2 separate regions of the Homo sapiens genome follow, and region 1 is linked to region 2. A link means that fine-mapping ties the variant in region 2 to the expression of a gene that starts in the linked region. Tissue or cell type: whole blood. Region 2 holds a variant in brackets; the other region holds the start of a gene. All regions are shown on one strand. Distances are from middle to middle.

Region 1 (8,101 bases), 100 kb before region 2:
ATGCAGAATTTAAACATTTACATACCTAGACCAGCTCTGTCCAATAAAACCTTCTGCGGTGATGGAAATGTTCAGTAGCCATCTAGCACTTGAAATATGGCTACAGCAACTAAGGAATTAATGTTTTGTTTTATTTTAATGAACTAAAAGTAAGATTTAAATAGCCATATGTAACTGATGTGGACAGTGCAGAGGACTATGAATGGCAAATAGGTTTTATCTCATGCACTGATGGAGGATAATTAGGTAGAGTCCCAACGAGTTCACTGGACACCTTTCCACAAATTAGAAAAAGCTGACCCTCTCCAGGCAAACAAATTAGATAAACGTGCTCCCTCCTGATGCCGCTGAAACCAGACCAGGACTCTCACCTCTGGCTGGCACCTGTGTGAAGGACACAACCTGCACAGTTTATGCCAAGACGGTCCTGAGAAAGATTCTGAGGCCAGGTCTGGGCTCGTTGATAAAGAGTGCCAAAATTGACCAGTAACATCTACTATGATCCAGGGAGTGGGGGCAGGGCTTGAGGGGGGACAGCACATACAATATCCTGCCATTCCTGATCTAGACTCTTTGCAGTCCTGCCTCTGACCTCTCAGCAGCAGCCCCTGCCTGGTCCAGGCAGTCACTTCCACAACTTCCTCCATCTTCCCCATCTCCGTAAACAGCCACACCACCCAGTTGCTTAGCCACATACCTGGGAATCATCCTGGAGTTCTCTTTCTTTGCCCTCCCATCCAATCCATCAGCAAATCCTGTCAGACCTACCACCACCATTTGAAATCTACTCCCTTTCTCCACCATGAGCATTTTAATTCACACCACCAGGTTCACTCCCACCTGAAGTGGGAGTGAAACAGCCTCCCACCTGGTGGACATTTGCGAACTCTCTTGCCAACCCTCCACCCCCAACCCTACCCTCAACTTCCCACCAGCCTATTCTCCATAGCAGCCATCATTTAAAAACATGGCATGAGTCATTCCCTTGCTTAAAACCCTTCCATGGCCCAACATCACACTTAAGGTGAAATCCAGGTGCCTTATCATGGCCTTCAAGGCCCTGCATGATCTGGCCCCTGCCCATCAGCTCCACCCCAACTACTATATTCCAGCCACACTGGCTCTCTCTTTCCCACAAATATATTACCCTCATCCTCATATCAGGGCCTTTGCCCTTCCTCCAGTCTTCACATATCTCCAAATCCTCCTGGGCTTAGCTCAAAGATCTCCCAACAGAGGCTTCCCCTGACCTCCACATCTAACATTGCCTCCCTCATCTGATTTTCATTACATCCCCATTTTCATCATAATTTCTTTATGTGATATTATTTATGTGTTCGTATGTATATTTCTGTTCTCCCACTACAATGGAACTTTCTTGTCTTATTCACTGAGGTATCCTATGGTCGAAAAGAGCTTGGCAGATAGTACATAAAATTTACATGTGTTTAATAATACATAGCGCAAGGTGCAGTGGCTCACGCCTGTAATCTCGGCATTTTGGGAGGTCGAGGTAGGGAGATCACTTGAGCCAGGACCAGCCTGGGCAATATAGTGAGACCTCGTCTCTGTAAAGAATTGAAAAAAACAAATACACGAATAAACAGCACCTTGCTGTCTCAAGGGCCAGCAGAATCCTTACTCATAGCCCAGAGTCCTTCTCTTCTCTAGCAAGGCTACATCCTTTCTGTAAACCTCTCTCACATTGAACTCCTCTCTTCTTCCCATGCCTAAAAGGAACCCTTGTCCCCAGAACAGACATTTACACTCACCCACAGAGCTTCCTGAAATAGGTGTAAAGACCCTGCTGCAAACATAAGACTATGATGGGCAGAACTGAGCCTGGGTCCACACACTGCACCCAACACAAGGCATAGGGAACCACCTGTCCCTCTTCCCACTTTAAGCAGGCCTGGCTCTCCCCACCATGCTGTAGCAGGAATGGGCAGGGCAGAGATTGGGGCTGGGATGCAAGTGAAGGAGGTGTGTACTCCAAGGGTCGGGGGATTACCTCCAGGCTGAGTGCCATCTGCCGAATGTAGAGCATATTCAGGTCCTCCAGGATGTGCAATCTGTCCTGCATCTCTGTGCCCCCCGGTGCCCTTTCCCTTGTCAACCCCTCCAGAGGGGGGACAGATAGGTACCACACTGTCCCACAGTTCCTCCTCCCACTGTTCCCTCAGTCTTTAAAGAGGTGGCCAGCTCTTGGGCAGAGGGCAGAAGCTGCCCTTATCCCTCTGCACTCCTGTTAAACCCCTCTGGCTGCTGTGACAAATTTTCCTCGCCCACTGCTGCTCCGGGGCCCTGCCGGGAGCCAGGCAGGGAAGAAAAAGAAAGCGAAGTGAGGATAAGTGGGGTCCCAGGAGGAAAGGCCAGCTGCAGAGGGGGCTCTAGGCACAGAGTGTCCAGTCTCGCTTTGGTGGCAGCTGTTCTCCCAGCTGTGGAAGAAAAAGGCCCTTTCATTCCGACTCTGGCCGCTCCCCAGCCCCCGCCCACATCCCTGGCCTGGTGGACAGGGAATCTGTGTGCGGAGAGGGCAGTGAGGGGCAGGCACAACTGGAAGGGGGCAGGGAAACGACGCCTCATGCAGGTTCTAGAGTCATGGGGTTTGCAGGAGGTTGGAGCTTCCCGAGAGGGGTTCCAGCTTAGTTTGAGAAAGTTGGGAAAAAGAGCCACACAGGTGAGGACCTCAGGGGAGAGTGAGCCCAGGGAATGGGACAAAGGGGTGAGTTGGCAAAGCAGCCCAGCCCTAGGGCCACCCCTTCCAACTCAGGGCCCCCATCCAGCCCGCTCCACCCTGGGCTCACAATTACCTCGCTTTTCCAGAGAAGGGAGGAGAGGGAGAGAGGAAGGCAGGGGTGTGCCTGTCTGCTGCTGTCCCCGCTCCCTTCTGCAGGCCCCTTCCCTTCCAGACAGGAAACCAGCCCCGATTCCGAGCCAGCTGCAGCCTAGCGCCCCCGCCTCCACGCCAGGCCCACGGAGTCACACTTCACTCGGCGGCCGCCAGGCCCTGCGGCTCCGCCCCAGCTCCTCCGAGCTGTCCCCGAAGGCCGGGCTAATCCCAGGGGCGGCCCCAGCTCACAGGCCCCTCCCCCTGGTCCCGGGCCTCGCCCCTTACTCCCCCACGCTGGCCCCACGCGGGTTCCTCGGGCCCAGTCGCTTGGGGGCAAGGGGACGCGACAAAGGCCCCCTCTCCCCAGGTCCACTAGCTTCTGAGTCAGAGAAGGCCCGGGACGCCGGGACAAGGGTGTGAAAGAGCCTCTTTGTTCTGGGCAGGCTGGAGGGAAAGGGCAGAAGCCAGGCCTGGAATCCCAGCCGGGAGGTAGAGGGGGCGGAAGGAAGGCCCACCTCACTTAACCCTTTCCAGACCCGGAAGGGAAGGCTTGGAACTGGGCTCTCCTTGGGCGAGTGTGAGTCTGACCTTGGGGACAGAAGAGTCTTCGGGGTAGCTATTCGCCCTCTCAGTCCCCGCTCAACCACACACCTTCAGCCCCGCCCTAGCCCTTAGGGCGTTACAGGTGGGGATCCAACAGGTTAACGCGTGGACGGCGGACGGGGGAAACGCTCAGCCTAGGGGCTGGACTCCTCTTAGGCCCCAGAAAAGGAGGCGGAAATTTTGCGTGTGGGAAGTAACCCCAAGGAGTTAAAAGCCCTGCAGGGGCATAGAGGAGCCTTTGAATTGGGCTTCGGGGAAGCGAGCGGCCCCGGCCTAAAGTCGGGGTTGATGACAGAGGCTGGCCCAGATGGCTGCGACAGGTTGTGGGATGGGGCTGGCGACTGGGGAACAAGCGGGAGCCCAGGCCAAGAGTCCGAGCGCTTGGGGCCCGCCTAGCTGCCCACCGCCCTTGGCCCGGGGATGCCCAAGACATTTTGGGGTTCAGGCACATTTTAGGAGTCGAGCTGGGGCCCTACAAATTGAGACCAACCCGGGCTTTTTCCAGGCTCAGGCAGATAATCCTAACCAGGCCGCGGAATGGGCAGCATGGATCCGATGAAAATGCAGACCGTCCACACCTTACTTTTTAAGTCAACAACTCCGTCGGGTTTGTACCCAGACCGTGCGTCTCCGCCCCTCGGCGTGCACGCGGGCGAGGGAAGGAGGCCGAGGTGGCTGGGGCTGCCCCCGGGAGCCGCGGAAGGGGAAGGCAGGGACGCGAGTCTCTCACCTCGGGCAGGTCGCTGAAGAGGCTGAGTCGGAAGCGGCCGCGTTTGAACTCCATCTCCAGGGCGGAGCCCCTGGCCACGGTGACCCGGCTCCGGTGGTTTCGGGAGAACATGCTGGCGGCCCTGCGACTTTGCCTGCTCAGTGCGCTCCCCGCGCCGCCCGGCTTAGCCTCCTCTCCTCGGCTTCTGTCTCTCGACGCTCGTCCGCCAGTCCGGCCGGGAATCTCCCGCTGCGGGGCTCCAAACCCCGCCCCCGGAGACGACACCTGGGCCGGGCAGGGCGCGGCAACCTCCTCTTCCACCCCCGCCAAAGGCCCAGCCCGTCCGGCCAGTCCCTGGGCGCCAAGCCGACCTGGCCCGACGGCCCCGGAGCCCCCAGGGGCGCACTGCACCTCGCGAGCACTGTGGGAGCGCGTTCTCCCTGCCCGCGCGGGTCGCGAGCGCCTACCTGGACTTGGGACGGACCGAGAAGCCCTGCCCCGCCAGCCGCCCCAACCTGGCAAGCCTGGCTTCCCGGGCGCTGAAAACCCCGTGGCTCAGGGATCGCCGCGTAGCACGCTCTGGCTCTACTCGGGCCCTGGGACCTTGCCCAGTTTCAATCCCGGCAGCCTCCGAAGAGACCATTTCAACATCCCACAGTCCCAAATGTTCCTTCTTCGTCCCCCTCCCCACCTAGGCTCCTCTGCGAGGCTATCCGCCTAAGCCTAGTGGCCACAACTGATGGGGCGGTGCTTAAACACGTCGTGAAACCCCAGCTCTGTCACTAACTAACCGTGCAATCATTAACTTGGTCCAGTCACTGGCCTTTCTGAGCTTCAGTTTTCTCATTTGTTCAGTGGGAATACTGTAATTATCTCCACTCCTCAAGTTGCTATGAGGATTACCTATAAGAATGAGGGTAAAATGCCCAGCATAGTGCCTGGCACAAGGCAAGTGCCCCATATTTGCAGTCATAAAGAGCAGCTGCGCGCGGTGGCTCACGCCTGTAATCGCAGCACTTTGGGAGGCCTAGGAGGGTGGATCACCTGAGGTTGGGAGTTCGAGACCAGCCTGACCAACATGGAGAAACCCCATCTCTACTAAAAATACAAAATTTAGCCGGCCATGGTGGCACATGCCGGTAATCCCAACTACTTGAGAGGCTGAGGCAGGAGAATCGCTTAAACCCGGGAAGCAGAGGTTGTGGTGAGCTGAGACCCCACCATTGCACTCCACCCTTGGAAACAAGAGCGAAACTACGTCTAAAAAAAAGATGGCTGGGTGCAGTGGCTCAAGCCTGTAATCCTAGCACTTTGGGAGGCCAAGGGGGACTGATCGCTCTTGAGCTCAGGAGTTGGAGACCAGCCTGGGCAACATGAAACCCTGTCTCAACAAAACACACACACACACGCACACACACACACAAATTGGCCTGGCATGGTGGTGCACACCTGTAGTCCCAGCTACTCGGGAGGCTAAGGTGGGAGGATTGCTTGAGCCCGAAAGTTCAAGTCCAGCCTGGGCAACATAGTGGGACCCCATCTCTTAAAAAGCATTACAAATATGTATAATTTTTTATTTTTATTTATTTATTTATTTATTTATTTTAATTTTTTTTTTTTAAGACAGAGTCTCACTCTGTCACCCAGGCTGGAGTGCAATGGCATGATCTCGACTCACTGCAACCTCTGCCTCCTGGGTTCAATCGATTCTCCTGCCTCAGCCTCCGGAGTAGCTGGGATTACAGGCGTCTGCCACCATATCTGGCTAATTTTTGTATTTTTAGTAGAGATGGGGTTACACCATGTTGGTAAGGCTGGTCTCAAACTCTTGACCTCAGGCGATACACCCGCCTTGGTCTCCCAAAGTGCTGGGATTTCAGGCGTGGCCCACGCCTGGCCAATATTATCTATCTATAGATAGATATAGATATAGATAGATATAGATATAGATATAGATATAGATATAGATATAGATATAGATATAGATATAGATATAGATAGATATAGATATAATCAGCTGCTTTGCTGGATGGCTGGACTTGCCCGGCTGGACTTACCACTCCCTGCTTCCATAAAAACAGGGTTCCCGCTAGGCGCGGTGGCTCACGCCTGTAATCCCAGCACTTTGGGAGACCAAGGGGGGCAGATCACGAGGTCAGGAGATCGAAACCATCCTGGCTAACACGGTGAAAACCCGTCTCTACTAAATATACAAAAAAATTAGCCGGGCATGGTGGCGGGCGCCTGTAGTCCCAGCTACTCAGGAGGCTGAGGCAGGAGAATGCCCTGAACCTGGGAGGCGGAGCTTGCACTGAGCCGAGATCGTGCCACTGCACTCCAGCCTGGGCGACAGAGCGAGACTCTGTCTCAAACAAACAAACAAACAAACAAAAAACAGGGTTCCCTTCTTGCCCCCTCTGGGGAAAGCCCAGTGGAAGAGAAGGAAATGGCAAAGGATTAACTTGCTGATCACACATAAACAGATCTCCTGAAGGCTTCAGAACACAGAACTTGAGAAAGGGTGAGACTCCTACATGGCAGGCTGGCTGGACCCAGAGACATACCAGTCTTGAGCTCTTAGAGAGTCCAGATTAGAAATGTTTTGCTATGGCAAATCATTTCAACATTCTTTTGGAAAAGCTGACTGAAAAGTACTAAAGCAAAAGGGGAAATGCATCGGCTCCTGGAACTGAGCCAATACAAACAAATGAGCCAGGGGTCAAGCTTTAGATGTGGCTTAACCCACTCATTGAGTGTCAGGAATATCCAGTCTCTTCCCATCACTTGGCTCTACTTTCCTCCACGTTGGCTTCACTCTCCACAGTGTAACGAAATTGCTGCCCAAAATTCTGGGTCTATATCTTTTCAGGCTTAAATTCAGCTGAAAAGAGAGCATCTGTTTCCTGAGGCTCCTACACGTCTGGGATTCGCTGTGAGACATTTGTGATCATTCATCCATCCCAAACCAATCATTGGAGTCAGACGGTGGCCAGATCTGAACCAATTGCTGTGGCTAAGGAGGTTCTAGGTGCCAGCTGGCCAGGCTTGGGGTCACTTGCCCACTCCTGGAGACTAACCAGAACCCAGTGAACTGGGAGGGAGAAGGTGGGGGAGGGTTGTTCCCCAAAGAATGTTCCAACCACTACCACCAGAAGGTGAGAGAATGGAAAATGAACAGGAAAAACAACCAACATCCTCCACACACAAAATTTTATATGGAGAAGGGAGTTCTTCTGGTCAGTAGGAAAGGCAGATCAAAAGATTTATAAAGTCCATGGCATCTGAGATTAACCACAAAAGACGTGTGAGGGGAAAGAAAGGGAAAGATATTGTTCCTTAATTTATTCAAATATTCATCATCACTCCTCTGAACTGTAAGCCTTCTAGGGAGGGGCAGTCTGTCTTATCCCCAGTGCCTGGGACATAGCAAGTGATCAATAAACATCAGTTGAAGTAAATAAAAGAGAAGCAAACAGATTTGAGAGTCCTTGACTGAGATGTGCCATCCTGTTGGACTAAGATAGTTCATTTCAAATGTTTGTTTTTAAGCAACAGAACCTTTTTTTTTTAATGAAATCTTACCTGAAATGTGTGAAATCAAATCAGAGCTGCTATGATGGGAGCAGGTGCTAGAGCCTCATGCCTTGTCTACCCACAGGTGCTCAGCTGCTCCCTGCTCCCCCAGTGAACACAAGCTCTGTGGACGGGTTTGAAAACCCCTGGCCTGAGACCCAGGAAGGAGGCAGAGGAATGGAGGATCTTCAAAAAGGAGGTTGAGCTCAAATCCTGCCTGAGAGTTTGTACTCAATGTGGCTGAAGATTTTTGGGAAGGAGGGACATGATCAGGATTATATTATATTATATTATATATATATATTTATATAATATATATCACTCTGTTACCCAGCTAGAGCAAAGTGGTGCCATGATAATACACTGCAGCCTTGAACTCCTGG
Region 2 (8,101 bases):
TTCAACCTCCATCTGTACTGAACACGTACCAACTTTTTTTCTTGTCATTATTCCCTAAGCAATAAAATATAACAACTACTTATGTAGCATTTACATTATGTTAGGTATTATAAGTAATCTAGAGATGATTTAAAGCATACAGAGGATGTGCATAGGTTATATGCAAATACTATAGCATTTTATATCAGGGACTTGAGCATCTTTGAATTGTGGTATCCTTGGGAGATCCTAGAACCAATCCCCCATGGTTACTGAGGGATGACTGTTTAATGTGTGAAGACACCTTGGGATTTAAATATACGTATATATTTTAAACCAGTCAGAAGCTGTTTGATATTTTCTGCCTCAGCTTCTTCCTGAGGATGTACTTAGTTGGTCTCTTTGCCAAAGTGTCCAAAGTGTTGGACATTCCTGGCAAAGAATATACAACTCTCAGGTCCCTTTACTGAGACATTGCTAATAGTTAGACTCTTTCATCTTATAAATATGGTGTGAAATTTTTTCTCCAAATGTCTTTTTCTCAAACATGTCTAAAATGTCTAAAATGAAATACACTTGGCCTCTTCACCAATCAACCTGGAGAGTTCACCTTGATCTCCAGAGTAGTACTAAAACATTTTGGTATTATCTAGAAATTTAGAAGTACCTCTTCTCTAAATTATTTAAGGACCTTATATCAACAGGTCTTTGTATTATTTATATATATATATACACAAACATATGTAATCTTATTTCATATTTATATAAAAGAGTTTAGACCCTTTTATCTTATAAATATTTTATATATAAAATTATATATAAGTTATGTTAAGGACTTTGTCCTCATTGAGGACCAGTGCTGTTATTTGTCTTGATTTAAATTTCTTCATTCACAGATGTGTTTGTTTCCACCTACCATTTGTTCCTTCCTTCAGCCATCAAACATAAAAACCTATGTAGGCCAGGGGCAGCGGCTTACGCCTGTAATCCCAGCACTTTGGGAGGCTGAGGCAGGAGGACTGCTTGAGCCCAGAAGTTTGAGACCAGCCTGGGCAACACAGTGAGACCTCGTCTCTACAAAAAATTTAAAAATTAGCCGGGTGTGGTGGCTCGAGCCTGTAGTTCCAGCTACTCAGGAGGCTGAGATGGGATGATCGCTTGAGCCCAAGAGGTCGAGGTTGCAGTGAGCCATGATGGCGCCACTGCACTCTGGCCTGGTCAACATAGAGAGACCCTGTCTCAAAAACAAGGAATCAAACAAACAAACAAACAAACAAAGAAAAAACCCAAAACAAAAACCTGTCTACATTTGCATATCCTCTTCTCATACCTTTCAACTATTTTTCTTCTCTAAGTCTACTGTACCTAAATGTTTCTAAATTCCATCTCTTACAATTTTTCTCAGTCCTGCATACCATTTCTTTTTCTCAACTGAATCCTTTTAAACATTCAAATCACTCCTACACATGCACACACACACACACACACACACCCTCTACTTATCTCTCCTCCCCTTCACAGTAACATTTCTCAAGAGCTGTCCATACTTATCATCTTTATATCCTCTCTTCCTACTTTTTTTTTTTTTTTTTGAGACAGAGTCTCGATCTGTCACTCAGGCTGGAGTGCAGTGGTGCAATCTTGGCTCACTGCAACCTCCGCCTCCTGGGCTCAGCAATTCTCCTGCCTCAGCCTCCCAGGTAGCTGGGATTACAGGCACGCACCACCACAGCCAGCTAATTTTTGTATTTTTAGTAGAGACGGAGTTTCATCATGTTGGCCAGGCTGGTCTCAAACTCCTGATCTCAGGTGATTCACCTGCCTTGGCCTCCCAAAGTGCTGGGATTACAGGTGTGAGCCACCATGCCCAGCCTCCTCTTACTCATTTTTCAACCCACTTCCTCTGGTTTTCCCTACCTATCACTCTGCAAACTTCTATTTTGTTAAATCCAGCAGACATTTTTCAGTCTTCATCTTAATGACCTCTCTGCAACATCTGACTGTCCTCTCTTTCCTTGGCTGCTATAACACTACAATATCCTGGTTTTATTCCTAATTCTGCTTATTATTATTATTAATTTCCAGAGTGGCTCCCCAGGGAGCAGGGCTGACTCCTAGGCAGTGTGCCTAGAGCCGCCTACTCCTAATTCTGGTTGCTCTTTCTTGGTCTTCTCTGCAGGCTCCTCCCCTATCTGGTCATTAAAATTTGTGGAGCTCTTTCTTAGGCATTTTGTTCTCACTTCATATAGGGCCCTCTATATGGTCTAATTCACACCTAGTGTATTCATAATCTTGTCTATTTCATTGCCTTCTTGATGTTTCTAGGTAGAGATCTGAAAGTAATCTGAAATGTAATGTAGGTCCAAAAAAAAAAGATAATTATCTCAGTAAAATCCACTCCAGAAACCTAGGGGTCAATCCTGACTTCTCCCTTTCTTGGATCCCAAAGTCAATCAATAACCAAGTCCTGTCAATTTTACTTCTAAATATCTCTCCAATCCATATCTTTTGCTCCTCTCCTGATTATTCTCAGAAATAGAGTCAAAGGCGGGGCGTGGTGGCTCATAGCTGTAATCCCAGCACTTTGGGAGGCCAGGACAGGCAGATCACTTGATCTGATCCTGAGGTCAGGAGATCAAGACCAGCCTGGGCAACATGGAGAAACCCCATCTTTACTAAAAATACCCAAAAATCAGCAAATTAGCTGGGCATGGTGGCGCGTGCCCGTAATCCCAGCTACTCGAGAGGCTGAGGTAGGAGAATTGCTTGAACCCAGGAGGCGGAGGTTGCAGTGAACCAAGATTGCACCAGTACACTCCAGCCTGGGTGACAAAGCAAGGCTCTGTCTCAAAAAAAAAAAAAAAAAAAAAAAGAAAAGAAAAGAAAAAAAAGAAATAGATTCAAATGATCTTTTGGAGTCACAAACCTGATCATGCCATCTCATAGCCCTCCCCATTAAAACACTTCAATGGCCGGGCACGGTGGCTCAAGCCTGTAAGCCCAGCACTTTGGGAGGCCGAGGTAGGCGGATCACCTGAGGTCAGGAGTTCAAGACCAGCCTGGCGAGCATGGTGAAACCTCGTCTCTACTAAAAATACAAAAATTAGCTGGGCGTGGTGGGCACCTGTAGACCTAGCCACTCAGGAGGCTGAAGCAGAAGAATCACTTGAACCCAGGGAGGTGGAGGTTGCAGTGAGCAGAGATTGTGCCACTGCACTCCAGCCTGGGCAACAAGCCAGACTCCCTCTCAAAAAAACAAACAAACAAAACAAACAAACAAACAATCCAAACATCAAAGGCTTCCCAATCCTTTTATCATAAGGACCTGAATCCTTATGATGGCCTATAAGGTCTTCTATGATCTGCAGCCTAATAACCTCTCTTGTCATTTATTCACCTTTGTATTCTCAGCACCTTGCACAGTACTTGGCAAATAGGAGTTCAATAAACATCTGTCAAGCTGAAATGAACTAGAAGAGTGACTTCTTAAATAGCACTGAAGCTCTTAGAGCCTCAATTTCATTACCTGTAAAAGAGTAGTAAATAGTTCAATTATCTGTACATTCTTTTCTTATTCTAAAGTTCTACAACTTTTACATGTTCTAGGGTAGAACTACCAAAACAAATTGAAAAATGATTAATACATCAGGTTTTGATTTTCTCATTCCCTAAATCTTACTGACTTCCTCTAAAAGCCAGCAGATCCATTTTTTTTCCCTAAGGAGGGGAGAGTTGTTTACAACTGTCTTGCCTATCTTTCATAATTGTAATAATTGTATCACCTGTGAGAATGCTCCCTCTGCTGGGCCTGACCTGTGAAGGATCTAGATCATAGCCCCATCACAGAATCTCCCAGGGCTCCCGCAATCTCTTTCCCCACGAAGAATGGCCTCTGTGCTTTAGTGTATCTCTTTCTCCAGCCTTTATATCCCAGACTTAGTATGAGATTCCGATATGTCCAACAAATATTCCTGATCCCTAAAACTTATTTCAGCTTTGCATACCTGGGGACAATTCCTGTGTCTCAAACTTTCCAAGGACAGCCCATCTCTAAAGCTAGTTCATATTAACCTGAAGCCCAGAGATGGCTGCTGGTACCATCCTTCTCTCAGGCAGCATCGGAATCATTTTAGGTGTCTGTTCTCTCATTCTCTATGTTCTATCAGTCATCCTACATCTATTCATTTTCCTCCATCTTTGTTTTTACCCTCCTGATAAGCTTCAATTTTAGAACAAACTCCTGACTGGTCTTACTGCATCAAGACCCTCCTCTCCTCATCCACTACTATCAGGCAAACTTTCAAAAACACTGGCTTTATTCTTGTCCCATATAAATACCTTTATTTGTAATTTTTCTATAAGGCAAAGGCCAAACTCTCCAATTTGGCACCTAAAGCATTCCATTTTCTGGCCTCCCTTTATCCAGATCTTCCACTATTTCTCAGTATAAACCTACTCTTGCTAACTTACTGTCTTCCAAATATAAACCATTCATTATCATCTCTGTTGGGGCCAACAGTGACTTTACTGTTGCTAAATCCAGCATTTGTTTCTCAGTCCTCATGTTTTTAGGTCTGGGCAGCACTGACTTAGCTGGTCACTCTCTCCTCTTCGAAGCACTTTACTTGGCTCCCAGGCCACCACACTCCCCTGGTTTTCTTCCTACCTCACCTCACTGTTTGCATTCATCTTATCTTCTGACTTTTAAATATTTAGTCTCCCCAAGGTTCAGTCTCTGGGCCTCTCTCTGTCTTTTAAATTTACATTCACTTCCTTGGTATGTTGTCCAGTTTCAGGACTTTATATGTTTTACTCAACTGAACTCCAGAGTCCTATATTAAATTACCTAACTTAGCCTCGCCACTTCAATGTCTTAAAGAATCTTAAATTTAACAGGTCTAAAACCAAGTTCCTACCCTCCACCCCCAAGCCCATCT[C/A]CCAACAAAACATGCTCCATTCACTGTTTTCCTTGTCAGGTGAGGCCAATTTCTTACTTAGCTGAGGCCAAAAACCTGGAGAGAGCCTTAACTCCTCTCTCTCACATCACACTGAATCCATCAGCAAGTCCTATAGCTCTGCCTTCAACTGTCTGTAAATCTTGATCATTTTTCACCACTTTCACTGGTCACCATCACCTTTCACTTTCTTTACGTGGCTTTCAGAAGACAATAACCCCATAACCAGCCACCTGACTTCTTGCTTCTACTGCATCCCTTACAATCTATTCCTAATAAAGCAGTGAAAGTAGTACTGAAAAAAAAATGGAAGCCCGATGTCACACCTCTGCTCCAAGCCCTCCAGTGGTTCCTTATCTCCCACAGAACAAAAGCCATCCTCTCCCAGATGGCCCGCAGGATCTGGCTTCCCATTCTTTTCCGAAGACCACCTACACTGCATCTCCTACCATTTTCTTCTTTTTCACTCAGCTCCAGCCACAGTGGCCTCCAGGAGAAGGAGAGGCCTTATCCCATCACCCACTACATACACACACAGGCACACACACACCCCAGAATATTTTCATTTTTGATCCCTCTTCCTAGAAATGTTTATCTAGAGGTCTGCATAGCTTGTGCCCTCACCTCCTTTAAATCTTTTCTCAAATGATGCCTTCTCCAAGAGGCCTTCCTTCACCACTTATTTATTTACTTACTTACTTAATTTATTTTTATTTTATTTTTATTTGAGACGGAGTTTCGCTCTTGTTGCCCAGGCTGGAGTGCAATGGCGCGATCTCAGCTCACCGCAACCTCCGCCTCCCGGGTTCAAGCCATTCTCCCGCCTCAGCCTCCCGAGTAGCTGGGATTACAGTCATGCGCCACCACACCCGGCTAGTTTTGTATTTTTAGTAGAGATGGGGTTTCTCCATGTTGGTCAGGCTGGTCTCGAACTCCTGACCTCAGGTGATCCGCGCCTCGACCTCCCAAAGTGCTGGGATTACAGGTGTGAGCCACCGTGCCCGGCCTTAGTTAATTTATTTTTTGAGACAGGGTCTTGCTCTGCCACCCAGGCAGTGTAGTGGCATGATCACAGCTCACTGCAGCCTTGACTTCCTGGGCTCAAGCAATCTTCCCACCTCAGCCTCCCAAGTAGCTGGGACTACAGGCACGCACCACCATGTTCAGCTAATTTTATTTTTAAAAAATTATCTGTAGAGACAGGGTCTCATTATGTTGCCCAGGCTGGTCTCGAATTCTTGGGCTCAAATAATGCTTCCACCGTGGCCTCCCAAAGTCCTGGGATTATAGGCATGAGCCACGGGTAGTGTCTACAACAGTACCTGGCACATAGTAAGATCTCAGTAAATAAATATTGGGTGAGTGGATCTCTACACCTTTGTTCACGCTATCTTCTTCACTGGAAATGTCTAAATTCTACGCATCTTTCAGAACATGGGGTTTAAATTAGGGAAGGTAAGCAGCACAGAGAAGGAAATGCAGCCCCAAGATGGATGAAAGTAAAGAGGCACAGCACGTTTGTTTTAAAGTGGTTTGAGTGTCCAGGCCAGATAAAGTACCGAAAGTCCTCAGTACTGAAAGACATTTCAGATGAGCCTCAGAGCCAAGGCAAAGAAAGTGTGAGCAGGTATAGAAAAGACTGGAGACTGGATAATATCCTGACTTTCAAAAGAAAAAAAAAAAAGGAGAAAAAGGATTCCTCAATTCCTCAATCTACACATAAGTAATATTCTAGAATAAATTATTAAATAGAAGTTTGTAAGCATTTAGGAAAAAATAAGGTGATTCTTAGAGACCTAAAAGGATTTCAGTAAAAATAGACTCAAACTACTATGATTTTCTTTTTTGACAGGATTACTAAATTGGAAGGCTGGAGAATGGCTGTGAACATAGCATATCTGGATTTTATCAAAAACTAACAGAATCTCCCATGATTTCATTACAGATAAGAAATATATAGATAGATAAGGTGAAATGTTGGTTACATCATTGAAGTGTTCTGTTTCTTCCCAGTTGGTGGAAGGAACATATTTTACAGCTGATGATTAGAAGCTTGATGAAAATCTACAGGAACATTTTGCAAGAAGAGTTAGACTTTGGTTTTAAACATTTCCACAACAACTTTTAGCCATTTGGATGAAGCCAGAAGGCAAAGCTGCCATGTCTGTTCAGCAGAGGAGGCTGAGGGGAAATGACAGATGGAAAGTCACATCAGGACTCAAGATAATCTCATGGGATCATCATGGCTTTTTTATGGCTTCTAAATTATGTATCAAAACAAATGTAATAGGTAAACGTCACCTATACCTGGGTTGGAAAAGGCTGCTCTATCAGTAGGAAGCATAGGGAAGACCTGAACTGGTTTTAAGTGATGACAAGTTCAGTATAAGCAGTGGGAAGCTGCCGCAGTAGGAAGACAGTGTAATCCGAGCACGCTTCAGTCGGGGTTGAGGATTTCTACAGTAGCTGGCGGCATCAGACCCCATCTGAAGTAGTGTGCCCGCGGAAACCTATCCGGACATCAAGAGGCCTTTCAGCAATACTGATCTAGGGAACCACTGAAGAAAGGGAGGATTTTTGGCTCGCAAAATAGATTACAGTGAGAGGGTGTAAAGATTTCCAAATAAATGCCTGGCTGTCAATGGCAGTTTCTCAAAAAGATCAAAGTAGATGTTCCAGGGAAGGGAGACGTTAAGCACAGGCAGTTTCCAGGGTGATGCGTTTCCCTGGAAGCCGGACTGGACCCCAGGGCTCCAGCGCAGGTGGAGAGGTTGGGCCTCGCCAAAAGAGATCCTGGGAAACTTCCAGGACTTCCAGGAGCCCCGAGGGCTCGAGCGTTCACATACGCGCCCCGCCCCGGGGCGGCCCGGGCAGAGAGACTGGCGCGGTCTCTCCTGGCGCCCTTCGGCCATCGCGCGCCGCCGTCCCCGGGCCCCCGGACCCTGGGCGCCCAGCCTGCGCGGGACACACCCAGGCGCCGCCTCCCAGGGGCGGCCGCGTCCTTACTGAACTCGGAAATCGCTGGCCGGCAGCGCCAGCGCTGGAATCGCCCCCGCGCCTGGGAGTGGCCTCGCGAGGCCGGCGCGCGCCCCGGGGCCGAGGAATCCGCCTGCCCGCCCAGGCGTCGGCCACGAGAGAGCGGGAGCCTCGCTGGTCCCCATTTCAGG

What was found. PIP is the estimated chance that this variant, and not a neighbour inherited with it, causes the effect.
Region 1: RTKN starts here. The variant in region 2 is fine-mapped to the expression of RTKN in whole blood (TOPMed, PIP above 0.99).

Annotation. Positions count from the first base shown.
Region 1 is chr2:74,437,540-74,445,640 of GRCh38, forward strand. RTKN (rhotekin) reads right to left here and starts at 4,398. Exons shown (of 12, transcript NM_001015055.2): 1 at 4,167-4,398. The coding sequence starts at 4,277. RefSeq lists an enhancer at 1,849-2,586 and silencers at 3,014-3,323, 4,039-4,098, 4,409-4,488.
Region 2 is chr2:74,541,073-74,549,173 of GRCh38, forward strand. All of the region lies in intron 4 of LOXL3 (lysyl oxidase like 3), which reads right to left. It also overlaps a transcript of DOK1 not described here. Among named protein-coding and RNA genes, the nearest start is that of LOXL3, 8.8 kb to the right of the region's middle. RefSeq lists an enhancer at 4,974-5,143 and a silencer at 7,705-8,024. The variant C/A (reference allele first, on the strand shown) is at 4,917.